Linked DNA regions of Homo sapiens. The protein of the gene in region 3 purifies or fractionates together with the protein of the main gene of each other region. This does not show direct contact. Each region holds a gene or a part of one and is shown on either strand. Other genes may lie near its edges. The genes, in order: RGS3, ADPRS, FRMD6, MRAP2, ABLIM2, FBN2 and SHMT1.

Evidence for each region.
Region 1: the proteins of FRMD6 (region 3) and RGS3 purify together in Homo sapiens (co-immunoprecipitation; one large-scale study listed by IntAct). This does not show direct contact.
Region 2: the proteins of FRMD6 (region 3) and ADPRS purify together in Homo sapiens (co-immunoprecipitation; one large-scale study listed by IntAct). This does not show direct contact.
Region 4: the proteins of FRMD6 (region 3) and MRAP2 purify together in Homo sapiens (co-immunoprecipitation; one large-scale study listed by IntAct). This does not show direct contact.
Region 5: the proteins of FRMD6 (region 3) and ABLIM2 purify together in Homo sapiens (co-immunoprecipitation; one large-scale study listed by IntAct). This does not show direct contact.
Region 6: the proteins of FRMD6 (region 3) and FBN2 purify together in Homo sapiens (co-immunoprecipitation; one large-scale study listed by IntAct). This does not show direct contact.
Region 7: the proteins of FRMD6 (region 3) and SHMT1 purify together in Homo sapiens (co-immunoprecipitation; one large-scale study listed by IntAct). This does not show direct contact.

What each region holds. Positions count from the first base shown.
Region 1 is NC_000009.12:113,582,227-113,585,726, forward strand, and holds part of RGS3 (regulator of G-protein signaling 3), read left to right. Parts: exon of another isoform or gene 1-16; intron 17-1,223; coding exon 1,224-2,201; intron 2,202-3,500. UniProt on the Homo sapiens protein: Down-regulates signaling from heterotrimeric G-proteins by increasing the GTPase activity of the alpha subunits, thereby driving them into their inactive GDP-bound form.
Region 2 is NC_000001.11:36,087,705-36,091,691, reverse strand, and holds the start of ADPRS (ADP-ribosylhydrolase ARH3), read right to left. Parts: upstream 2,801-3,987; 5' UTR 2,788-2,800; coding exon 2,577-2,787; intron 449-2,576; coding exon 352-448; intron 75-351; coding exon 1-74. Other genes in the region: TEKT2 (tektin-2), read right to left, coding at 3,506-3,719, 3,885-3,964. UniProt on the Homo sapiens protein: ADP-ribosylhydrolase that preferentially hydrolyzes the scissile alpha-O-linkage attached to the anomeric C1'' position of ADP-ribose and acts on different substrates, such as proteins ADP-ribosylated on serine and threonine, free poly(ADP-ribose) and O-acetyl-ADP-D-ribose.
Region 3 is NC_000014.9:51,707,410-51,710,909, forward strand, and holds part of FRMD6 (FERM domain-containing protein 6), read left to right. Parts: intron 1-668; coding exon 669-824; intron 825-3,500.
Region 4 is NC_000006.12:84,054,272-84,057,771, reverse strand, and holds part of MRAP2 (melanocortin-2 receptor accessory protein 2), read right to left. Parts: intron 2,461-3,500; 5' UTR 2,454-2,460; coding exon 2,327-2,453; intron 1-2,326. UniProt on the Homo sapiens protein: Modulator of melanocortin receptor 4 (MC4R), a receptor involved in energy homeostasis. Plays a central role in the control of energy homeostasis and body weight regulation by increasing ligand-sensitivity of MC4R and MC4R-mediated generation of cAMP.
Region 5 is NC_000004.12:8,096,314-8,099,813, forward strand, and holds part of ABLIM2 (actin-binding LIM protein 2), read right to left. Parts: intron 970-3,500; coding exon 786-969; intron 1-785. UniProt on the Homo sapiens protein: May act as scaffold protein. May stimulate ABRA activity and ABRA-dependent SRF transcriptional activity.
Region 6 is NC_000005.10:128,307,746-128,311,245, forward strand, and holds part of FBN2 (fibrillin-2 precursor), read right to left. Parts: intron 2,364-3,500; coding exon 2,238-2,363; intron 1,655-2,237; coding exon 1,502-1,654; intron 1-1,501.
Region 7 is NC_000017.11:18,350,051-18,353,550, forward strand, and holds part of SHMT1 (serine hydroxymethyltransferase, cytosolic), read right to left. Parts: intron 1-3,500. UniProt on the Homo sapiens protein: Interconversion of serine and glycine.

The DNA.
Region 1 (3,500 bases), on a different chromosome or scaffold from region 3:
AGCTGTACAATAGTGGGTAAGTCACCGGCCTTTGGGCTCAGTTTTCTCATCCATCAAATGGACATTAATGATTTCTACAATGAGAGCTCTTAACCCATGTTCTGGGGGTACTTACCCCTGAAGTTTTCTGCCAGTGTGCGCGTGTGCCCGCAGGTGCACACATTCCCAAGCATCTGTTCAGTTCCCGAGTATGGGTGAGGTCTTTCCCTTTCATTAGTTCTCAGCAGCTATGGCTTCTTGAAGACAGAACCTGGGCTCTAAATAAATAGTTCCAGCTCCGGCATTCCTGGTCCTTGACTGGGAGGGGCCCACCCCAGACTTGAGAACTGCCTCCCTGTGTGGTTGTGGCACCATGGACACTCCTGACTTTCTCGGGGCCCCAATCTTCTGGTGACATAGCTGCTATTCAGACTTTCATTAAGAGAAATGTTTTTCTCTTTGCACATGAAATCTACTGTCGAAACTCAGCAAAACCCCCTAGGATCCCGAGGGTTGTGTGTGAGGCAGGAGATGCTGTGTTTTTTGAGGAATCCCTGAGCTTCCTCCAAGCAGTTTAAAAATCCCTGGGTGGGTGATTCTTCAGGGAGGTTCCGTGTGTCTGCGACATCTGGTGAGTCCAGGTGTGGACAATATTTTAAAGTTCCGGTTTCATTCCAGTTTAATAGTTTCAAAAAGATACTTAAGCGTTCAGAGCACATTCTTGTTTGAATGACTCATTAGGATTTTTTAAACTTGAGTTCAGGTAGAAGACACCCTGGGCTGGGTTCAGTGACTGCCCTGGCTTGGTTCTGGTCCATAAGCAGAGACTGCCTGGTTCTCCTTTATCCCCAGAGGCAACTTTGACCCTGTTTCCTTTTCTGTAAAATGGGGACAGTGATGCTTCTTTTATAGGGTTGTCGGGAAGGCCACATAAGAGAGTGGGGTCAAGCTGGCCTGGCACCTGCCAAAGCAGGAGCTAGATAGATAGTGGTTATCTCTCCCTCTTCTCCTATAAATGACCAGCTGTGTTTTTGATGGAGCAGAAAGTTCAAGCAAGAAGACAGGGTGAGAATTGTTACCCAGCTAAGTCAAAGGGGCTTTGGGGGTTCCATCTGGCACCTCAGCTTTCAGACTGGGGGCCCGGGGTTCAGGCCACTGCCTGATTTCATGTCAGCTCATGCATGGTGTCTGGCATCTTGGAGCCTCCTCTTCTGAACTGTTCTTGTTTTCTTTTTGTTTCCCAGATGTTTGAGACGGAGGCAGATGAGAAGAGGGAGATGGCCTTGGAGGAAGGGAAGGGGCCTGGTGCCGAGGATTCCCCACCCAGCAAGGAGCCCTCTCCTGGCCAGGAGCTTCCTCCAGGACAAGACCTTCCACCCAACAAGGACTCCCCTTCTGGGCAGGAACCCGCTCCCAGCCAAGAACCACTGTCCAGCAAAGACTCAGCTACCTCTGAAGGATCCCCTCCAGGCCCAGATGCTCCGCCCAGCAAGGATGTGCCACCATGCCAGGAACCCCCTCCAGCCCAAGACCTCTCACCCTGCCAGGACCTACCTGCTGGTCAAGAACCCCTGCCTCACCAGGACCCTCTACTCACCAAAGACCTCCCTGCCATCCAGGAATCCCCCACCCGGGACCTTCCACCCTGTCAAGATCTGCCTCCTAGCCAGGTCTCCCTGCCAGCCAAGGCCCTTACTGAGGACACCATGAGCTCCGGGGACCTACTAGCAGCTACTGGGGACCCACCTGCGGCCCCCAGGCCAGCCTTCGTGATCCCTGAGGTCCGGCTGGATAGCACCTACAGCCAGAAGGCAGGGGCAGAGCAGGGCTGCTCGGGAGATGAGGAGGATGCAGAAGAGGCCGAGGAGGTGGAGGAGGGGGAGGAAGGGGAGGAGGACGAGGATGAGGACACCAGCGATGACAACTACGGAGAGCGCAGTGAGGCCAAGCGCAGCAGCATGATCGAGACGGGCCAGGGGGCTGAGGGTGGCCTCTCACTGCGTGTGCAGAACTCGCTGCGGCGCCGGACGCACAGCGAGGGCAGCCTGCTGCAGGAGCCCCGAGGGCCCTGCTTTGCCTCCGACACCACCTTGCACTGCTCAGACGGTGAGGGCGCCGCCTCCACCTGGGGCATGCCTTCGCCCAGCACCCTCAAGAAAGAGCTGGGCCGCAATGGTGGCTCCATGCACCACCTTTCCCTCTTCTTCACAGGACACAGGAAGGTGAGAAAGCTAAAGGGGGAGGGAGAAGGATACATGCAATGTGGGGAGGGCTGGCCCAGGGGCTGCAGGGAATGAGAAGTCACCATGTTCCACCCCCACTATCCTGGCAGCCTCCCAGCGAACTTTCCACCTGTTGGACAGAAGATAAAACTGAGGCCCAATGGGACCAAGAAGGCAGAGCATGGACTTAAACACATGACTTTAGGATTCCAGATGCTGTGTTCTTATAGCTCCACTGGTCCCCACAGAAAGCAGAGCAGGTGTAGCTTAGCCCAGGCCATTGTGTATTTGGATTTAAAAGATCTGAGATAGTAGCTGGAGAAATAGAGTTACAGCCTAGCCAGACTAGAAATCCATCAGCCAGTCACAATGACAACACACATTTATTCCGTGTCCACATTATCCTAAGCAGTTTACATTAACTCATTAACTCTCACAACAGCCCTTTGAAGTAGATAGTATTTTTGTGCCCATTTTACAGCAGAGGAAACCGAGGCAAAGAGAGGTTATCTAACTTGCTCCAGGTTACACAGTGTATCAGTGTCTGAACTAGAATTAGAATCTGGTTCCAGGGCCAGTGCTCTTAACCAACCACCACACCGTTTGCCTCTCGTGAATATTTATATGTAGATGAATAAGTATTTATGGATTTCCTGCTGTGTACCAGGCCCTGCGCTCTGCAACATGGCAGGAGCCACAGAAGTGTGTGAGGCTGGTCTCAACCTGAGAGAAATAAGTTAACTGTGTGAGCCTTGAAAGTGGCCTAACAGTGAACAGATTGCGCCATGATCTTGAAGCCTACCAGCTAGTTTGGGTCTGGGCTCTGTTTCTTACTATGTGGCTTTGGTTGAGTCACTCAACTCCTCTGAGCCATAGTTTTCTTCTCTGAAAAGTAGGGGTTAATAGCACTCACATCCCAGAATGGTTGAGGATGAATGGAAGAGGCTGGTGCCTGATAACACTAGCCGCTTGAGAGGCGGCCCTCAGGGAATGCTGGGCCCCACTCCTTCTCTTGAAATGCAACAGCCAGTGCAAGGTGTTGGTGTGAGGCTAGGTGAGTAGGGGTGCTCAGTGCCCATGGAGCACAACTGACTCAGAGATCTAGAACTTCAGGAGGACAGACCCCAGGGCCTAAAGCCATCAGGGAAAGCTTCTGGAGGAAGATACCTCTCAGCTTGGCCTTGAAGGATGAACAGGATTAGAATAAACAGAGAGGTAGAGGCAAGCATTCTTTGGCTAGAGCAGAGCATTCCTAAAGGGCAGATGCCTGGCACAGGTGCTGCTATTCCTCCCTCCAAC
Region 2 (3,987 bases), on a different chromosome or scaffold from region 3:
GGAGCTTCTTGAAGACAGTGACTACTCCAGCACCATAGCCCCTGTCAGGGTCTTTCTTGTACTCCTGAGCAAATCTAGGGAACAGAAGGGGAGACAGAATTCAGATTTACAAGATGCCTCTAAGGGTTGGGAGAGAAGAAATCGAGGCTAGTTTGGAAAAAGAGAAAGCCTCGGGGGCCTAAGGAGCCTGCACCAGCAGTGCTGCTGTTTTAGCTTGGGAAGCTGTGCCAGCCTGACACAGGCTTCTGTGGAGGGTTGGGGGCGTGGACATGCACAAATGTCATTCCTCTGGTCAAGGGGTGCAATAACTTTCCCACCTGGTTTGCCTCAGCCCAGGACCATCCCCCTCACCTGTGAGCCATGTCCACCTCGTCAAAGGCCTCCTTGGCTAGCAGGGACTGCACCAGGGCCCTGGCCATGGCTGTGTCATCTGTGTAGTACAAGGCTTCTGTGGGGAGAGGAGGGAGGATGAGAGCCTCCTGCTCACCTTTGTTTTTTTTGTTGTTGTTTTTTGCTTTTTTTGGAGACAGAGTCTCGCTCTGTTGCCCAGACTGGAGTGCACTGGTGCAATCATGGCTCACTGCAGTCTTGAACTCCTGGGCTCAAGCTATCCTTCTGCCTCAGCCTCTCAAGTAGCTGGGACTATAGGCATGCATCATCACACCCAGCTACTTTTATTTTTTTGTAGAGACAGGGTCTCACTCTGTTGTCCAGACTGGTCTTGAATTCCTGGGCTCAAGCAATCCTCCTGCCTTGGCCTCCCAAAGAGCTGGGATTATAGGCCTGAGCCACTGTGCCTGGCCCTGCTCACCTTTTATTTTAGTTTATATTATTATTTTTTTGGTACAGGGTCTCACTCTGTTGCCTAAGCTGCAGTGCAGTGGTACGACCATGGCTCACTCCATCTCGACCTCCCAGGCTCAAGGAGCCTCTTGCCCCAGCCTCCCGAGTAGCTGGGACTACAGGTGCACACCACTGCGCCTGGCTTTTTTTTTTTTTTTTTTTTTTTTTTGTAGAGATGGAGTTTCATCCTGTTGCCAGGCTGGTCTCAAACTCTTGGGCTCAAGTGGACTCTCCCAAAGCGCTGGGATTACAGTTGTGGCTACGGCACCCAGCCTCTACTCATGTTTCAGAGTTACCACATCTAAAATGACCTCAAATCAGTTTCTCACTCCCATTCACTTTCGTGGGCCTGGGAAGCCTTAGGATCTCAGCAATGGGATTTTCAGCAATTCTTTATTCCAAGTCAGTCCTGCTGCTTTCTATTTTATGTATTTATTTATTATGAGCCTACATCATGGTTTGATCTTCTGATTTCTGAAAGAAAACTTCCATCCCCTTGTGGCTGCCATCCTTGCAGCTCCAGTCTTTTTGTTTTTGTTTTGTTTTTCTTTTTTATAGACAGGATCTTGCCATGTTGCCCAGGCTAGTCTCGAACTCCTGGACTTAAGCGATGATCCTTCCACCTCAGTCTCTGGAGTAGCTGGGATTATAGGTGTGCGCCACCATACCCAGATTGAAAATGATAGTTTCTGGATCCAGATCTCCTCCTACTTCACTTCTCTGGAGCACACCACCAGTGATCAGTGTCTTCATTTTGAAATTCTTTTCCTAGGTTTCGTTGATAGCCACTCCTGCTTCTCCTCCTATCAAACTGTTTCCTTCCCTAATCCCCTTCCCTCCCTCCCTCCCTCTTAATTACCGGTGTTCTCCAGGGTTCTGACCATGGCCCTTTCTTCTTACTATGCTACCTGCTCTCCAAGAAGATTCACCTCCTCTGCTTGACCTCACACCTGCTACCTGAGCCGGGATCTGAGCCCACAAGGGAAGGGAAGTTAGTTTTACAGGCGAGACAGCGCATGCAAACGCCTGGCCTAGAGGAATCATGGTGTGAGGAACCGAAGAGCAGAAAGCAAGGCCAAGGCTGGCGGAAAACGAAACTGCAGACGTGTGGGAGGGCCGGACCACGTCGGACACGTTAAGGAATGTGGCTCTGTACTAAGGGTAATGGGAAATCACAGCAGGGTTTTAGGCAGGGGAGGACGCGATTAGAGTCAGGCTTCCAAAGCACGCCTTGCGGGGTGGAGAACGGGCTGGTGGTATACTGACTCTAGAGAACCGGGAAAAAGAGGTCAAGTCGGCAAGGGTGGACAGACAGTCCCCGACTTAGGATGGTTCAACTTAAGTTTTTTTCGGCTTTCTGATAACGCTGATACGCATTCATAGGCTCCTCGACGTCCGATGGGGCTGCGTCCAGATAAAACGGTCGTCTAAGCTGAAAGCGCACTTTCCACTTCAGGTATTTTCAACTTACGATGGGTTTATCCACACCCTGCACGGTTGAGGCCCCGGTGCTGCCACGCCCCGAGCACGGGATGTTCGGGGCGAGACGTCTATAAGGCCGGAGATCGCACTGGCACTCGCTGAGCTCAAGCTGTCTGCGGGTCATCCGGCTCTGGCCCCGGTGCCCTCGGCAGCCTCATCCCCGCGCACCCCCGACCCGTCGCCCCCGGAGGCTCCGCGCCCCTTCGGCCTCCCTCCCGCACGGCCTCTGACTTGCGCCCGGCCCCGCCCACCTGTCCGCTCACTCCCGGGCGTGCCGGGGTCCGGCTCCAGACTCTGGACATGACGCAGGACTGACGTCAGGTCGACGGTGTCGTGGGCCTCGTAGAAGGAGCCCACGCAGTCCCCGAGCAGCGCGCCAGCCAGGCAGCCTCGGAAGCGCGAGAGGGAGCGGGCCGCGCCAGCCCCTCCACCTGCCGCTGCCGCCATCGCCGCTGCGGCCATCCGCGCGCAGACTGCTCGCCACTTCCGGTGCCGCCCTCACAGTTTCCCTACTTCCGTCCGCAGCGCTCCCTGGGGCCTAGAGTTTCCACTCCGCCGCCAGGCCCACAGCGCCGCCCAGCGGCCCGGAGTCGCGGCGCCGCGCACTTCCCGCCAGCCTGTGCTTTGAGTCTCGGTTTTCCGCTCCTCACCACTGGGCTAACTGGGTGGGAAGGCCACTATGGGGTCTCCGGGGGATGGGCACTGAGCCAGACCATTGGATCACTGCAGCCCACACTGCCTTCCGCAGGCGAGCAACCCTAACTCCGCACCCCCAGCCGGCCCTCCCCACCGAGGCCGGGACCACCCCCAAGCCCTCCCACCGGGCCCTTGCCCCCTGTGGGCCTCCCTTAAGCATCAGGAGGGCGGACCAGGGGCCAACTGGGACACAGCCAGGTAGAGGCCGCGCTGCTGCAGCCCAGGAGTGCTGACCCAGCCCAGAGAGGGGTGCCCTGAGGGGAGGGAAAGAACTGGATTTGGTACATGGAGTTCGGAGGAATAGTGTTCCCCATCTTTGCTCCTCCATAGACAGGAGGGTGTTCAAGAACCCTCTCCCTGCTGGCTACATACAGTGGGGCAGAGAACAGCCGGCCTGAGATCCTCTGCATTTATTCCATTCATTTCTCTCCTCCCTCCTTCCATTGCCCACCCAACCCTGCCCTCCTCCTGCAGTCCTCCAAGGCTAGGCCAGCTCCAGCTGGCAGCTTTTGAGTGGACTCAGGGTGCTATTTGTGGTACGTGTGAAGGTGTCCACCTCAGGCACGAACCTCTCAGCAGGCACGGTCAGCTTGCGCCGTGTGTCCATGCACTTGGTGTCCAGCAGCATGGAGTTGGCCTTGCAGGCAATGTCAGCCTGCAGCCGGGCCAGGTGCTTGCACAGGGCGTCCAGTGCGTCCCTAGGGAAGGACATTGACAACCCCCCAGCCCCCATGAGGCTGGGAGGCCTGGGCTGCGTGCATAGCCTTCAGTCAGGAAGACAGCCCCAGGGAGCCAGCAGCCAGCAAGAGGCCCCATTTGTGGGCAGCGTCTCACTGCTCCTTCCGCCCACTCCCGAGACCTACTGTGCTTGCGCCAGCTTCTGCTTCAGGGCAGCGATGGTTGCCTCTAGCTGGTGAACCTCGTCGGTGAGGCCGTACTGTGCCTGGAGGCAGAGGGGTTGGGAGT
Region 3 (3,500 bases):
TCAACACCTTTCTCTTAGCCTGCAGCTGCTGGATACTATATATTTGACATCTGAAAGCCCAGAGTACTGTCTGATGAAAATCTAAGTCACAGTGAATCACAATGAGTGTTTGAATGAAACGGTTTTCTCATAAGTATTCCAGCAGTGTTCATATCAGCCTCTTATGCAAGAACCAAAAATGTTTTAGAGAATTTCTCCCAGTACCCTGCCTTCTTTTGATTAACATTTAGAACCTCCCAGTCTGTGGCTGAAATTTTCTTAAGAGTTAGGTAGGATCCAGAACCTGAAGATGTGCCTACTATAGATGTATTTCATGGTACCAAGTATAAACTTGCAAGTATAAACAATTATGTGTACAAAATTATGAAAGTTTGTGTAGTGTTTTTCTCTTGGTGACTTTAAAGCAAAGATAACTTATTTTTCCTATTTGTTGTGATTTTTCTTCTTAGGTATTCAGCAGTACAACTAAATTGACTCTATAGCTTCTAGTATTAGCTGATTTAGCCTAGTAACATAACAGATGGTGAAAACAGAATGAATTTTCAATGCAAACCAACCAGTTTACATGGCCTATTTTAGCTTCTCATTCTTTCATCATTTTGGGGGTGGGGGTAGAACTTACATCTCTCCAACAAATGTTGCATTGCACACCCCTTGTATCCCAACAGGTTGTTTCCAAGAGGGGGAAGGACTACATCCTGAAGCACATTCCAAACATGCACAAAGATCAGTTTGCACTAACAGCTTCCGAAGCTCATCTTAAATATATCAAAGAGGCTGTCCGACTGGATGACGTCGCTGTTCATTACTACAGATTGTATAAGGTATGAAACGGCAACTAAGTCTTCAGCTTCTGAGAAAAAAACATCTTCTCAATAGGATTGAGAAGGAAAACCGAAGGATTTCATTTCCATTAAAACTTATTTCATTTTTTACATGCTTTTAAAAGAGTTTCATTGAACTGCTTTTTGTTATCGCACGTCAGTCTTGGAGGCCATGGTGCTTTTACTCTGGCCTGGAAGCGGGGTGGAGTATTTTTTAATGGTTCTAATAGTGAGATGACAATTGGCTATAAGATGTTAATCTGACTTTTTTAGTGATTATGGCATTGTTATTTCTCTCCTCCCCAAATCTGCTTTTCTGCTTTGGGGAATAGCATTTGCAACTTCTTTGATAAGTAATTTTTAATATTCCTCAAAGTGAAGCTATACCTGCGTTGTATCCGTCAGTTACAAGAACATTACCACAACAGGTAATGTTTATGGAGTCCTGTGTTTACTGGGCACACTTTATATGTGTTTTTTTTAATCCTCATAACTTTATATGAAAGGTACTTTAATCTTTATTTTACAGTCCAGGAAACTGAGGCTTAAAGAGATTAAATGAATCACCTAAGATCACAAAACTAAATGGCAAAGCCAGGATTTAGTCAAGGCCTTCTTGATAACATAGGCTGTGAGCCTAAGGCACTGTATTCCACACGTTCCTCACTCTCGGAAGTTACTCTCCTTTGTGTCCCGTGTATCTCTAGCCTCGTTTTTCCTTTCTGGGGCAGAGGTCACACACCCAAATAACAACTGGGGCCATGCTCTGCAGGGAATCACTCACAGTACTCTATATCATCTTGTCTTCTCTTCCCCTCCTCCTCCTAACCCCTTTCACTATTCCATAAGTGCCACTTTGTTGGCAAGAACTCCTGAATACCCACTTAAGTATTCAAAGGTGTATTCTCAAACCAAATGGATGAAGTGGTTAAGAGCACTGTAAGTTGAGCCTAACTGCCTAGGATTGAATCTCAGTTTGGCCTCTTACTATGTGACCTCAGGCAAGTTACTTACTTAACCGCTCTGTACTTCAGTTTCCCCATAGTTAAAGGGGACAGCAACATACCTGCTTTTTAGGATTGCTGAATACTAAAGGAATTGTTGGATGAAAAACTGCTTAAAACAGTGCCCAGCACATGTTAAGCATGATGTTAAGTTGGCTGCTGTTACCATTACCATTGATAGTATTATGCTTGTTATCTCTACTTTGCCTTTTGTGGTAGGATTAGCATAGCTAGACCATTGGAAACTGGGCTTTAGTTTGGATGTATTGCTCAGTAATCTTGTTAGCTGGTTCAGAAAACTTAAGGGACCAACTGATGTTTTTTCTATCTCTCTTCTATGCCCAAGAGATGCATTATTAATGCCCCATCTTCCTTGAAAGGCATAATTGAGTTCCATAAGATCTGTTTGGCTAAATTCCTAAAGGACTGAGTTGTAATTTTTTTTTAGCCTGAAGAGATTTTATTTGTGACACCTCAATTGACACAAGAAAATGCAAATAAATGACAGTTTTGATAATTAGTTTATATTTTAAAATGTATTAGAAGTATGAATGATATGTTGGAAAGAGTAAGAGTGTGGCTTTGGAATCAGATGTCAATTAGAAACCCTATGTCACTACTCGCTATAGCTGGGATCCTAGGCAACTATAATCCTGAGCTGTCTATTAAGTGGGGATGATACAATATGCTTCACAAGGTTGGGAGGCTTTGGTGAGATAATGAATCTGAAATAATGAGGTGGAATACCTGGCACATTAGTGAGTGCTCAATAACCATTAATTGCTTTTTGCCTTATTTGCTGGGGAAGCTTGCTATTTTAAAGAATCCTATTAAGAAATAAGAATCTTTTGTTGAAGTAGATATCCCCAATTTATCTTCTGTGTAAAACTTAATTTTCAAGTTTACTTAAAGTATGGCGCTTCTGAATTGCATAGAAAATGACTCTTATCTGCTAAAAAGATTTTTAGTAAAAATGTAACATAATGAAGTGGGGGAAAAGATATTGGCTGATTCACAGTTTTTATTCTTTGGAGAAATTCAGCGGCAGCCATTAAATCTGCTTCATTTAGGAGCTGCTCATAAACGGGAAATAAGGTAGACAAAGGACAAGGGAACATTCTGGAAAAAAAACCCGTTTTGTGCCCCTTTCCCACCAATATATACCGTATACTTGAAAACCAGCATTTTTATGAGCATAGCCTTATTTTGGAAAGCAATCTGTACATCCTTGAAAGCGAAATTGACCAAAACTCATATAATGATGGATTAGTTTCTCCTCTTAAAGCTTATGCTATATGTGTTTTTCTTGATGTAAAAATATACTAGTTGGAAAGAAACAGCCTAAATAGTAGAAATAGGCTGTGTCTTATATTTATAATGCCAGGTGAGGACACATGTTTTAAAAATATTTCATCCCATGTTCATGGGAAAGCTGGCACTAAGCTTAAAAAGATCTCTGCATACTCATTGTGTTTATTGGGAAATCTCATAATGAAAATATTTACTTAGTAATTTCATTTCTATTTTGAACTTTATACACTATATATACTTATTACAGATGAGCACTTAAAGGATGTGGCTGAATTTTAAAGTGAATTTTTAATTGTGGAGGTTTTTTTTTCCCCTTATGCTCATTGTAGTTTATTTTCTACAGTTTATGGTTTAGCTGGTA
Region 4 (3,500 bases), on a different chromosome or scaffold from region 3:
CTATTTAACTATTTATTGTCTGTCTCTCCCACTAGAATGCAAGCTCTATACAAGGAAATATTTCTGTCTTTTCAGTTCACTGTTGTCTCTCCAGTGCTTAAAATAGTACTGCACATAACAGGTGCTCAATAAATATATATTGAATGAATGAATAAATAAATAGGTTTCCACTTTGTTGGTGCCAAATCTGTATCAGATACATGTCCACTTCTGATACATGATAAGGTTTAATATTGGATTCAAAACTGATGGCAAAAGAATTCTCAAGCACCATCTGAGGTTGCTTCTCAGATGAAACACCCTTTGAAGGTAGGAATCTTAATTTCAGCAGAGGAACTCAGTCTAAAGATGGAGCTATTGTTGCCAAGTGTGATCCATTACAGGTAAGGCAAATAAAGATAACTGTTATGGTCATTCCTGTCCGCAATGAGTGCTTCCCCTTGAAATGTCCTGCTTCTGTTCTTTTGAATCTGCATCTAATTAGCTTTGAATTTTGCCCAGCAAAACAAGGAGTCATACTTGAAGGTCAGAGTCACAGCATTTTTAAATGAAAGAGACTGTACCAGAGCACACATTTCAACAGTTGACTTGATCTTTTCACTTTCCTGTATATCTGGGGTTTTGTGTTTGTTTATTTTTTGTTCTCAATGTGTCGCATATATTTTCAGGTTCCTGAAGCTAAGGGCTGCTACTTATCAGCTCTCTTATATCAGAACAGTAAGTGCTCAGGCATTTTTGTTTTATCTTGACGTGAATATTAAAATTAACAAAAGCAATTGTTATTAATGGTATAGTAGGTAAAGTAAGTAAGTAAGGAATGAGTCACACCTCTGCCTATGTTTCTCATGAAGTTTTCCAGCTATAATTATTTCTAGAATGTAATATCCTCAAAAAATATTTTATTCAATTGTCTCTGGAAATGTACCAACCAAAATTACAGCAGCAGGCCTGTCTTCTGTGCTTCTTAAACTAAGGAAAAGAGATAGGAGCAAGCTGACACAAAAGTAAAGTTGATGTCACCAAGCAGTAAAAGCCCACATTTCAAGAAAATATGTGGCAATTTTCCCAGTCATTTTGATATCCACTATAATTCAGAACAAGCAATTGTCCTTACATAAAGGTTATCCTAGAAAAACAACATATTAAAGAATTTAAGTAAATTAAAGAAGGTGATTTCACACCCAACAGCCTTCTCTCAGATAATCAATGACAGCATACCTTGATAAATGCCATGTGCTTTTTTTCCACAAAGAAATACTGAGCAGATGTCAATAAAGGAATGAATGAAAGTATTTAATTATTACTACTCACTTAAGGGGTAAAGGACATATGGTTTAATTAATGATTTTTGCTAAAGGAACAAAAATAGAAAGCCCTTCTTGCAAAAGAGCACCAAGTTGGTGCAAGAGATCATGAATGCCAAGACAGGTCAGGATAGAAGCAGCCAGGAAATAATTAAAGGAACAAAAACACTTTCTTTGCTACATTTGTTTCTCTGATTCTAAGCCCTCTTATATTTCCTAATGTGTCCCACTAACCTGGACCAGTTAAGAGCATAAAAATTTTACAGTGCTGTGGATAATTCACTCTGACAAAAGTGAACATTTCAGGGATATTTACGGGGTTACCAAGACAGGATCTGAGACTGGGCAGCAGTTCCTGCCTACCATGTTAACTGTTAACTCTACCTAATGAAGCAAGGATGTTCCATGCTGGCCAGTCAGCATTCAGTTATGACTGGAGTTGAGTAGCAACGTCTCACAGAATTACATTTCCTTGCTCTGTGCTGGACCCTTAATTACTCCAATAGCATGAAACACAATTCATGCCTAGAACACAGTGTTAGAAATGATCGCAGGCTATTCTGGTCCATCATTATGAGCACACATGGATACACTGCTCTCCACAGCTCCAGGAAACCAACTGGGATGAAAAGATGCTGCTGTGTTACAAAAGAAGGTTCTTCAAATAACAGTTCCAGATCCTATTTTTATACATATTTTTGATAGTTCAAACATTCACAGTTTGGAGGAGCTAAAAAAGCAAATGCTTTTTAAAAATTCTCAATCTCAGCTTGACATTGATTCATGTTCTCCTACTATGGGAATTTTTTAGTCTTTCATCAATTAGAATCACCAAGGCCCTCCTGTACCATTCCTGAGCAATCAGCCTATGTGTGGAGGCGAGATGTTTTGTAGAATTTGGGAGGTAGAGGACAGAGAGTTCTGTAAAGAAGAAAGAATGCTCAGGAGAAGTAATCCTTGGGGATTTCACAGGTTAAGAGAAATACAATTATGCTTTCAATGAGGAATTGTATAAAACTTACATTTATGAGCCTTCAGTCCTTCAAAGGAAACTGGTCCAATCTCATAATATTCATATTCCCAGGTGTAATCAGAATTAGATGCCGATTGCTGGGAGGTTCTGTTAGAAATTAACCTCTGGGCGGACATCTCCGACCTGCACAAATGGAGAAAGTCAAGCGCAGAACCTGTTAATTCATCCAGAGCTGCACAGTTACCTTAATTACTCTTGATCGCATTCAGGAGTTTGGCAGCAAACCCCTTGAGGAGGTCTTACCTCCTAGGCCAGGAGAGGTTCTTACCAGCTGCTCACACCTCATATCATGTGGCCACTACTTCCTTTTCTCTTGCCACTAGAGTGGAATAATGTATTTGAAATCAGACACTGTATATTTTTTTGAACTTAACCCAATGCCTGGCACATAACAAATGTTCAGTAACTGATGAAGGAAAGAAGGAAAGGAGGGAAAGAGTATGTCAAAATCTCTGAGCTTACAGCTTCAGCCTCAGCACCTATACCTGCAAGAGTATGTAAAGAGCCTGCTGAAACTAGTTCATTGCTGATACTAATTTGATGTATTACTCAATCTCAGATTGACATTGATTTATGTTCCCCTATAAGGGAATTTTTTAGTCTTTCATCAATTAGAATCACCAAGGGCCTCCTGTACCATTCCCAAGCAATCAGCCTATGTGTGGAGGCGAGATGTTTTGTGGGATTTGGGAGGTAGAGGACAGAGAGTTCTGTAAGAAGAAAGAATGTTCAGGAGAAGTAATCAAATTAGTATCAGAAATGAACTAGCTCAGTAGGTATCCATTCAACACCTACTATGCAACAATGGAGATGAGCAACCTAAGGTTTTGTTTGTTTGCTTTTCTTGCTTCCAGTGGGTTTGGAGGAAACTAAGTTTAATAAAATGGAGTGAATAAAGAAAAACAGGCAGCAAAAGTTGCATAGTGGATCTTGCAGAAGATACTCAACAGAAGTCCACAACTTGTCCAACTGCTTACTCCTGAAATTTATGATATTTTCAGGATTTCCCAAGTATCTTTGTTAACTGTGACTATTTTAGACCAAAAAATCCTGACTTCTTTGGGAGAAGATGGTTGCACTGCGCAGCACGGATACCGAAGGTGATAAGTCAATGCAGCCTGTGTTCAATAACTGTGTTTGAGCACCTACTGTGTGCAAGACAC
Region 5 (3,500 bases), on a different chromosome or scaffold from region 3:
TTTTAAAATAATGGATTAACCAGAGGCGATCTTTCAAACCAACTGTGAGATGTCAACCCTCATCTCTAAGCCACGTACACAAAAATCAAACACTCGGATAATCCCTGGGAGAGAGAGGTCTGACTCAGGTCACGCTACGATGACACAGAGCGACTCTCCCTAGACATACTCCTTGTCATCGTCACCTCCTGTCCTTAGCATCCTCTGACGAAGGTTCCATTTCTGTCTCCGGCACACGCTGTAACCACAGGGAACTGCTTTGGAAACAACATTGAAAACGTCCCCTGCAAACACGGTGTGGTGAGACAGGGAGTACAGAACAGAAAACAAACTGTTTTTCATGTTTCTCTTCTTTGTTTTCTAGAAACAGAACATTTCCTCTGGGAGGAACGAGTCAGGGGCTGGGGAGGGAAGGGGGAGGCAGGGACCACGTAGGAAGGCTCCTGCTCAGCCCCAGGAGGTGCAGGCGGAGCGGGGCCGGTGCAGTCCTGTTGCCGGGATGAGGACCCAGTCTCCGCAGCCAGCACTTGCTGCATGCTTGCTCTGTGCCATGCACCAGACCCAAAGCGGGGCAGCCCACCCCTGCCCTCACGGAGCTCCCTGTGAGGAGGCCTCTGTATGCACCAAGACAGAAGGGTGCAGACTGTGGGGCCTGGAACAGCCTCGCTGCAGGATGCAGAGGGCGGGTCACGGGAGGGAGCAGGAGGAAGAAGGGAAGGGAGGGAGGGAAGGAGAAAAGGCCCAGAGAGGCAGGGGAAGCAGAGGCCAGGTGCCCACTTACTCACCGGCAGACGGCACACACGAAGCAGTCGGGGTGGTAGGTCTTGCCCAGCGCCGACACCACCTCACCCTCAATGAACTGGTCGCAGCTGAAGCAGCGGGTGCCGTAGAGCCTCTGGTAGTCCAGCGTGCAGATGTACTCGCCCTGCCGCACGAAGAAGCCGCCCTCGGCCAGGTCGCAGCCACATGCTGGGGGAGGACGGGCGAGGTGGCGTTAGCGGCAGAGGGGACCATCTCCACGTCCCCCAGGCCCGAGGTGCACCCCCCTCCACACACACACCACCACCTGACACAGGCACTGAGGCCTCGGCACACACTTGGGGTGGCTTGCTCAACTCTCGGCGGGCCGGGCTCCTGGGACAGACTCCAGCTCTGGCCCCTGGCCTGGTGGTGAGTGGACTTTCCTTACAGAAGCTTGGGAAAGGGCACTGACCGGGACAAGAGCCAGGCTCTCTTGAGGGGCTGCCCAGCCTCCCACCCTCGCTAGAGTGCCCCCAGCCTCTGTGACCCCGCCAGGGATGGTCCCTGAGCCCCTGCTGTCCTCCAGTGGGCTGTTTCCAGCACTGGGCATACAGATCAGGAAGGGGCTAATGCCTGATCACCTACTGTGTGCTAGACTCTGTGCTGGGGGCCGAAGGTTCCCAGGAGGACAGACCAGGTCCTTGTGGTCGGTGCCTCCAGCCCACCTCTAGGCTTCCCACCCCCTCCCCCACTCCTCTGGGTCTCCATGCCCTCATGGCCCTCGACGCCTGTCTCCCCACAGTGTGAACAAGGCCAGACCTGCAGGAGGAGAGAGCCTGTGGACTCCTGAAAGGGAAGCACTTTGTCTCTTTTCCCAACACACACCCGGCCCAGGAAGCTGAAGCCCTGGAGCTCCATGGAGGGCTGAGGGATCTCTGCCAGGTAGGGAAGGGAACACTCGCCCTCAGGACAACTTGCTGGTCACCACCAGCTCAGAGGCCCCCAGTCCATGTCCTGAGACCCGATCGCATTCCTCCCACAAGCTTCCCCTCCAGTGCCCAGGCCATGCATGGTTTCAGAGGGAGCAGCCCACAGCCTCCCCTGACCCAGCTGGCCCAGGCCCTCCCTGCTAGAGTCACAGAGGAACCCCCTGCAGCCCCAGCCCCTCTGGCCTGGTCAGTCCTGGGTCCTGCCTGCTGGGTCAATGCAGCTTACAGCCACCAAGGAAGGGCTTTGAGAAACCATGTAGCCCTCATACATTTTAAACCTGACATCTAAAAGTTTTCATCACAATGTTAATTGCTTGCAAAGGACGTCGTTTCTGCACATTGTGAATATGGGCACCTTTAAAGTTAACTGTTACATCATTCCTTTGAGGGCATCCAGTGGGATATCGAGGCCAAAGCAAGACCCTCAACATTTGCCTACAAAACCCCCAACAGAGCTCTGGGAACAAACTGGCTGGAAGCACCAGAGTGGCTGGAACGCCTACATTCCAGGGTTTACTTGTCTCCATTTCTCCAAAGAGATGTTAGCTCTTCTGATATGGTGAGACGTCAACCGAGCAGCTTAGATTCCAGATGCCGGAGCTGCCGGGATTCGAATCCCAGCTCTACCCGCGTAGTGTGCTGTGTGTCCCTGGGCAAGTTCCTTAACCTCTCTGGGCCTCCTTGTCCTCATCTAGCACACAGAACCTACTTCAGAGGGGTACACGGCAGCACAGATGAGCATCCCGTGAGCCAGTGCGATGTGAGACCTGAGTCCTGCCTGGCTCAGTGTCGAGGCCCTGGCTGCTGCTCTAATGGCTGCTCCTAAGAGGCCCAAGGCCAGAGATGCTGATTCTGAATTCTGTCTCAAGGTAAAAATGAAAACTCAGAACGAAATCCCATCTAGATGGTCTGGGAGGGATGAGGGCATGGTATAAGATGCCTGCACTCGCTCCTCCTGGGCGTTCCGGGGCGTTTATGAGAAACAGCCAAGGACTCCCAGCATCAAAGGGAAGCTCCAGACAGGTGGGCCTCAGCCCTGGGCCAGGGTGCCCTTGCTCTGCACTCCATGCTCTGGCTCATGAAAATCCAGAAGGAAACCTGGGCTGAGGATGAAAATGCTTTGTCCGATCTTGCACCATAGCGTAGACCAAGCAAATACATCCCAACTGGGGAGAAGCAGAGACTTGGGGGCCTCACTTTGGAGCATTATAGTATTCTGATGTCAGCGCCACCTGCCCCAAGACAGTAGCTGGATGGTGACTGGGCTCACAGCACTCATGGCTCTGGCATTTCTGTATTTCTCTATTCTTCTTAAAGACGTGACGGCGTGAGCTGTTCCTTGAAGGAGAAACATGTGGCAGTGGTTCTGGTGCCCCACTCCAGTGCTGTGAGTCCACTCCCGGGAGCACCAGGCAAGTGAGCATGTCCAGCCCCAGCCGTTATCTGGGAGGTTGCTGGTCAGATTCTAGCTGTCCTGAGTATGCCAAGGTCACCACAAGGTGGTTAAAACCCAGACCTCTGACTGGGCACGGTGGCTCACACCCGTAATCCCAACACTTTGGGAGGCTGAGGCAGGCAGATCACGAGGTCAGGAGATCGAGACCATCCTGGCTAACATGGTGAAACCCCGTCTCTACTAAAAATACAAAAAATTATCCGGGCGTGGTGGCGGGCGCCTGTAGTCCTGGCTACTCGGGAGGCTGAGGCAGGAGGATGGCATGAACCTGGGAGGCGGAGCTTGCAGTGATCCGAGATCGCGCCACTGCACTC
Region 6 (3,500 bases), on a different chromosome or scaffold from region 3:
GGGACTATAAGAAGTATTCTTACACATAATTAACCAAATCAATGGAAATTTAAAAGAATTCTAATTTGCAAGATGAAAAATGCTTCTGACGCTCACTGCTATACAAGTGAGTAAAACTCCTGAAAACAGTATTATATAAAACTTAAACTGCATACTATATTCCAAGTGCTATCAGGTCAGGGATATTGTATATTTCATCCATCAATATATACCGAGTATTGAGAACAGATAGAAAGACCACAGATGCTCAACTTAATGGTTTCTAATTGTCTGGAAATCTTCAAATTATAATTTATATGTATAATCTCCCTAATTGTCATTGCACCCATATGAATTAGTCACTGTAATTATTTATTATTCCTATTTTATACATGAGAAATTAGTTTCAGAAAGGATACATACTCTGCAGGAGGTTCCACAATAAGTATCTTAAGAGTTTTGATTTAAATACAGACACGTCTCTCAACTCCAAGCCTTTCGCTTCTTCTCACAAAGAAAGTGCCATTTTAATTCCCCAAATCAATGATCTTAAATTTGTAACTATGGAGTTTTAAAGTTGAGAATTGTAGGAATGTTTCTATTTAATTTTATGGAACATAATAATGGCAAGATAAGGCTAAGAAAATCCATTTGACCAGTGAATTGGAGCCACTGAAAAAGGCCTATGTGTTGCTTTTCATCATTTCTCTCCTTAATTTCATCAATACATTAAATGGAACATTTAAATACATATACCCTAAGTAATATTTGGTAACAAATGCATAATCACTGTTTCTTATTTGGCCTACTGGTTCAACTCTTAGTATCTATAGTTATTAAAAGTTGCCATTCTCCAGGTCATAAAAGAGAGCCTGATGGACAGCAATTTTAAGACAAGCATTTTTGCTCTTATCTCTATTATCTTTCATTTTTTCTTTCAAAAGAAACTGTCTTGTGAAAAAAACATGACCAAGTGAAGACAAGCTCTATTTTTTGCCTAAAAATTTCACTGATGTCTGAGGAAGAAGATGTAAAAGGCACATTATGACAATGGGTTGCTTTTATGTAAAATTCGCTCATAAAAAACACTTTTTGCATATTTTCCACGGCTGAACTAAAAAAAAATCCTTATTGAATTTAGTTTTTCTCCAAATATTATACTTTCCATGTCTAGCACAGTGACATACAGTAGTTACTCAAGAAATATTTGTTTGATGAATAAATCAATAATTGACAAGCACAGTTTAAGATAATGAGTTTAAATGGACTAATGCTATCAACTCTAACTCTTCAGCAATGGATCTTATTTTCAGGATTCACAAGCCTATCCAACATAATGTCTCAGAAGTTAGTGTTTGAATCCCAAAGAGGATCACTTGGGAAACAGAACCATATGATGCTCTTGGGAATTTTTGGAACTGAGCATCTCTAGTTTTAGCATGCAGTGACTTTGACTATACTGTTAGATATATGCGTGTATCACTGATGTGGCAGTCAGCAGATGCACGAGCCGTGTGCTTACCTGTTCCTGGAGTTGGGCATGGTTCACAAGGTTTGTTCCAGGCTTTGCCCACATTATATGTGCAGCAGCACATCCTTTTTGTCACATTGAAAGGCAACTCATTCTCACAAGTGGTTCCATTATAGCTTCGGTAGCAAAAGCTTTTTCTCATGTCTATATAAAGAAAAACAAAGAAACTAGCCATTTGTATCCACGAGTAGTTTATAATGAAGCCCACACAGCTGTAGACATCAAGCTTTCCTGATGAACACAACTCGGAAACCCTTTTTAGTCATTTGAAGCTATCTTAAAATAACTCCTTAAACATAAATCATTTTTAGATTAACATCTCTCCTTTATCCTTAAAGGTTTTCACTTATAATTTTCTTGGGAGACAATGTTAATACATATTTGTTTTTCTCTCAAAATCATTTATTTAATTAAAAAAATAAAGCATTAAAATTTAAATGTTCTTTTATTTGTAAATTAATGTTCACACTATATGAATGGAGATGAAAAATTTAAGAATATATAACATTTGAGGAAATTTTCTACATTAGACTCATGCTTTTAAAAATTTAAATGTATACCCAAAGGTCAAAAACTTGATACTAAGCCAGCAGCTTGCAAGACTCTGAAATATCTCAATTCACGAAGACTGAACTTCCAAACTTCCAAACAATAATTCTGAGACGTAAGTGCTTTATGTGTGAAGTCAACAACTGTGCTCTAATTAATCTCAGAGTTCTTTACCTACCCATGCAGTTGTGGCCTCCATTGACCTGCATGTACTCAGGTGGGCAAATGCAGGTGTAATTTCCCAGGGTGTTATAGCAGGTCCCAGGCCCACACACACCAGGATGTGCAAAACACTCATCAATATCTAGAGTAGGCAAGAATATCTATTAATTAATAAATCTATTTTTTCAATGAATTTATATTACTTAGATGACTGAACAAAGCATAGGTGATTCTCTAAATCCCCATTTATGCAAAACTTAGAAATAAAGAAAATATCCCAAATATGCATTTATATAACACAGATACATCTTTCTTCAAAAGAAAAAAATCCCCATATTAAAAAATATAAAGCATCAAAAGAAATTATTCTAAAGTGGCAAAAAATAATTTCCTTGGCACATATATATATATATATATATATATATATATATATATATTTTTTTTTTTTTTTTTTTATTGCAATTCGCATTCTTCAATTGGAATTTCTTTAAAGCCTGCTTTTGTCCTATGTCACTTAGGCTAAGTTTTAATGCCAACTTTAAAGTGAATGCAGGTTGGGAAAGCCTTTGTCTTTGTAGCTTCTTTCAAATTAGTAACTATTCAGAGATTCTTAAAGCAGTGCAGCTGCTGGTTGTTCTCCTCATTACATCCTATTTCTTCCAGATACATTTATCAAACATGTTCCAAAAGAAAAGTTATAATGGAAATAATTACGCTACATGTTTAATGTTCAGTTAGAAGCATTCACTCATTTCACAATTAAAATATTGAGATTCTACTGTAAGCTAGAACTTATGGCTGTAATGATGAGTAAGATGTGGACCTTGTCTCCAGAAGCCCCCAGTTTAGTGGTGAGACAGGCCCCTAAAAGAATTGAAATACCATGTGATCAAGTGGGGGGATGGAAGCAAGAATGGCAGCTGCATAACCTTTGAACTTCTTCATACCATATAGTCCAACATTTAAAAATTACTGATCAATATTAAGTTAATGGTCACATTTTAGCTTACCAATTTTTCCTATGTAAAATGTAATTCTTATCAATATTTTCACTAATAACTTACTTAATATTTTAGGTTTTCACACTACCCCATTTTCCCAATTTATATTTAATCAACCCTCCTGGAAAAATACAGTGAATTATGGCAACGAGCCATAAATTAATTTGTCTATCATCATACAACTTAGCTACATTGATATGAAAAAAAAAAAAGCTATGAACCAATCTTAATTGAGCCTTTTGTAGAATGTGAGGATGGGCCTTTCCCTCAGGCCTCAG
Region 7 (3,500 bases), on a different chromosome or scaffold from region 3:
GGGCACGGTGGCTCACGCCTGTAATCCCAGCACTTTCGGAGGCCGAGGCGGGCGGATCACGAGGTCAGGAGATGGAGACCATCCTGGCTAACATGGTGAAACCCCGTCTCTACTAAAAAATATATAAAAAATTAGCCGGGTGTGGTGGCGGGCGCCTGTAGTCCCAGCTACTCGGGAGGCTGAGGCAGGAGAATGGCGTGAACCCGGGAGGTGGAGCTTGTAGTGAGCCGAGATCGTGCCACTGCGCTCCAGCCTGGGCGACAGAGTGAGACTCCGTCTCAAAATAAATAAATAAATAAATAAAAAATAAATAGGCCAGATGTGGTTGTTCACACCTGTAATCCTAGTAATATGGAAGGCTCAGGTGGGAAGACTGCTTGAGGCCAGGAGTTTGAAACCAGCCTGGGCAACACAGCAAGACCTCATGTCTATTAAAAATTAGCCTGGTGTGGTGGCACGCACCTGTGGTCCTAGCTACAGAGAGGCTGAGGCAGGAGGATTGCTTGAGCCCAAGAGTTTGAGGCTGCAATGAGACGAGATTGCACCACTGCACTCCAGCCTGGGCAAGACAACGAGACCTTGTCATTCATTTATTCACACATACATAACATTTTGTTTTAAACCCAGAACTTTGTTTTTAGGTTTGTATCAAGCAAAGTCATTAACGTTAGGTCAACACTGTTTTCTTTTTTTTTTTTCTGAGATGGAGTCTTGCTCTGTCTCCCAGGCTGGAGTGCAGTGGTGCGATCTCGGCTCACTGCAACCTCCGCCTCCCAAGTTCAAGCGATTCTCCTACCTCAGCCTCCAGAGTAGCTGGGATTACAGGCACGCACCTCCACACCCAGCTAATTTTTGTATTTTTAGTAGAGACAGGGTTTCGACATGTTGGCCAGGCTGGTCTCAAACTCCTGACCTCAGGTGATCCACCTGCCTCAGCCTCCCGAAGTGCTGGGATTACAGGTGTGAACCACCACGCCTTGCCTATTGTTTTCAAATATTGCCTTTGATTTTAAATAATGTTCCAAAGGTAGATTAATATTAAATTATATTAACAAAATATAATGAAAACATGTAATAATTACCTTTTATTTTTATTTTTATTATTTTTTTGAGACGGAATCTCACTGTCACCCAGGCTGGAGTGCAGTGGCGCGATCTCGGCTCACTGCAAACTCCACCTCCCAGGTTCACACCATTCTCCTGCCTTAGCCTCCCGAGTAGCTGGGACTACAGGCGCCAGCCACCACACCTGGCTAATTTTTTTGTATTTTTTTTTAGTAGAGATGGGGTTTACACCGTATTAGCCAGGATGGTCTCGATCTCCTGACCTCATGATCCACCCAGCTCGGCCTCCTAAAGTGCTGGAATTACAGGCATGAGCCACCACGCCCAGCCAATAATTACCTTTTAAAAGAGCCCTTTAATTGGCTGGGCACAGTGGCTCACGCCTGTAATCCCAACACTTTGGGAGACAGAGGCAGGCGGATCATGAGGTCAGGAGATCGAGACCAGCCTGGCTAACACGGTGAAACCCCGTCTCTACTAAAAATACAAAAAATAAATAAATAAATAAGTTAGTCGGGTGTGGTGGCACGTGCCTATAGTCCCAGCTACTTGGGAGGCTGAGGCAAGAGAATCGCTTGAACCTGGGAGGTGGAGGCTGCAGTGAGCCGAGATTGTGCCACTGCACTCCAGCCTCGTGACAGAGCGATACTCCGTGTAAAAAAAAAACAACAAGCCCTTTAACATGAATAAACGATGTAATTACACTTCTATTTAAGTTGTGGTTTTTCGGGGTTTTTTTTAAATTTAGAAACAGGGTCTCATTCTGTCACCCCAGCTGGAGTGCATTGGCAAAATCATAGCTCACTGCAGCCTTTGATCTCCTGGGCTCAAGCGATACTCCACCTCAGTTTCTTGAGTAGCTGAGACTACAGGCGCATGCCACCATGTCCGGCTAATTTTTAAATTTTGTTTTGGAGACAGCGTCTCACTATATTGCCCAGGCTGGTCTCAAATTCCTAGCCTCAAATGATCCTCTGCCCTGGCCTCTTAAAGCACTGGGATTACAGGGGTGAGCCACTACACTCAGTCCCCTTCTTTTTTTTTTTTTTTGAGACGGAGGCTCGCTATCGCCCAGGCTAGAGTGCAGTGGCGCGATCTCGGCTCACTGCAAGCTCTGCCCCCTGGGGTTCACGCCATTCTCCTGCATCAGCCTCCCACGTAGCTGGGACTACAGGCGCCCGCCACCTTGCCAGGCTAATTTTTTGTATTTTTAGTAGAGACGGGGTTTCACCGTGTTAGCCAGGATGGTCTCGATCTCCTGACCTCGTGATCCGCCCGCCTGGGCCTCCCAAAGTGCTGGGATTACAGGCGTGAGCCACCGCGCCCGGTCCCCCTTCTTAAAAATGTAGAAAACATCACCCCTTGCTCGATACATTGCTGTGAGAATCGAATGAAATATTAGTTTTGAAAACACCTGGTGTGGACCGGGTGCAGTGGCTCACAGCTCTAATCCTAAGCACTCTGGGAGGCCAAGGCAGGTGGATTGCTTGAGCTCAGGAGATGGAGATCAGCCTGGGCAACAACAGCCTGGGTGAAACTCTGTCTCTACAAAAAATTAGCTGGGTGTGGTGGTGTGTGCCTGTAGTCCCAGCGACTCAGTAGGCTGAGGTGGGAGGATGGCTTGGGTCCAGGAGACCAAGGCTGCAGTGAACCTTGATCACACCACTGCACTTCAGCCTGGGTGAGAGAAAGACCATGTCTCAAAAAAGAAGAAAAAAAAAAAGAAAACACCTGGTGTTAACAAAATACCTTAGCCTGAAAGAAGAAAGAAAGGAAGGAAAAAGAAAAAGAAAGGAGAGAGAGAAATAAAGAAAACACCTGGTGAATTCTTTAAGGCACAATGCAAAAGTTAGTTATTCACAATAGGAGAAAGACAATGCCTTCAACTTGATTCTCAGTCTTCTACATAGAGCTTCAGGGGCATCTCAGGACAGAATGGCAATTCCTTCTCCAAGGGTGACCTTTCTGTTTCCTTTGGGACAAAAATGCACACATTTGCAAAAGCCATGTCTAATTCTGTAATTTATTTTCTTTGCCTGATGATGACTGTAAAAAACAAAAACGAATATAACACTGTAATTCTGAGGGTGAAAGAGTCAACTGAAAGCCACTGCATGTGTAAATCCAACATTTATAATGCAGAAACGGTTTTCAGTAATCCAGATTCAGCCTCCACTTCCACACCATTCCCAATACAGACTCGATGACTCACATGGCAACGGCCACCTTCTGCAGCATCCCTCAGATGACACTGACCTTTTCTAGACAGAGGCCACACACCAGTCCAGTGGCTCAATACTCCTTACAAACTGGCCTGTTTTTCTAGAAAGCCCCCAAAGAACTGTGAAATGTGCCCCTGAGTACACCTGCGCTGAGCTCTTCAGTGTTATCACATGCTGGGAATAAAAGAGTTCTGTCAGAGAGCAGGCGTGGAA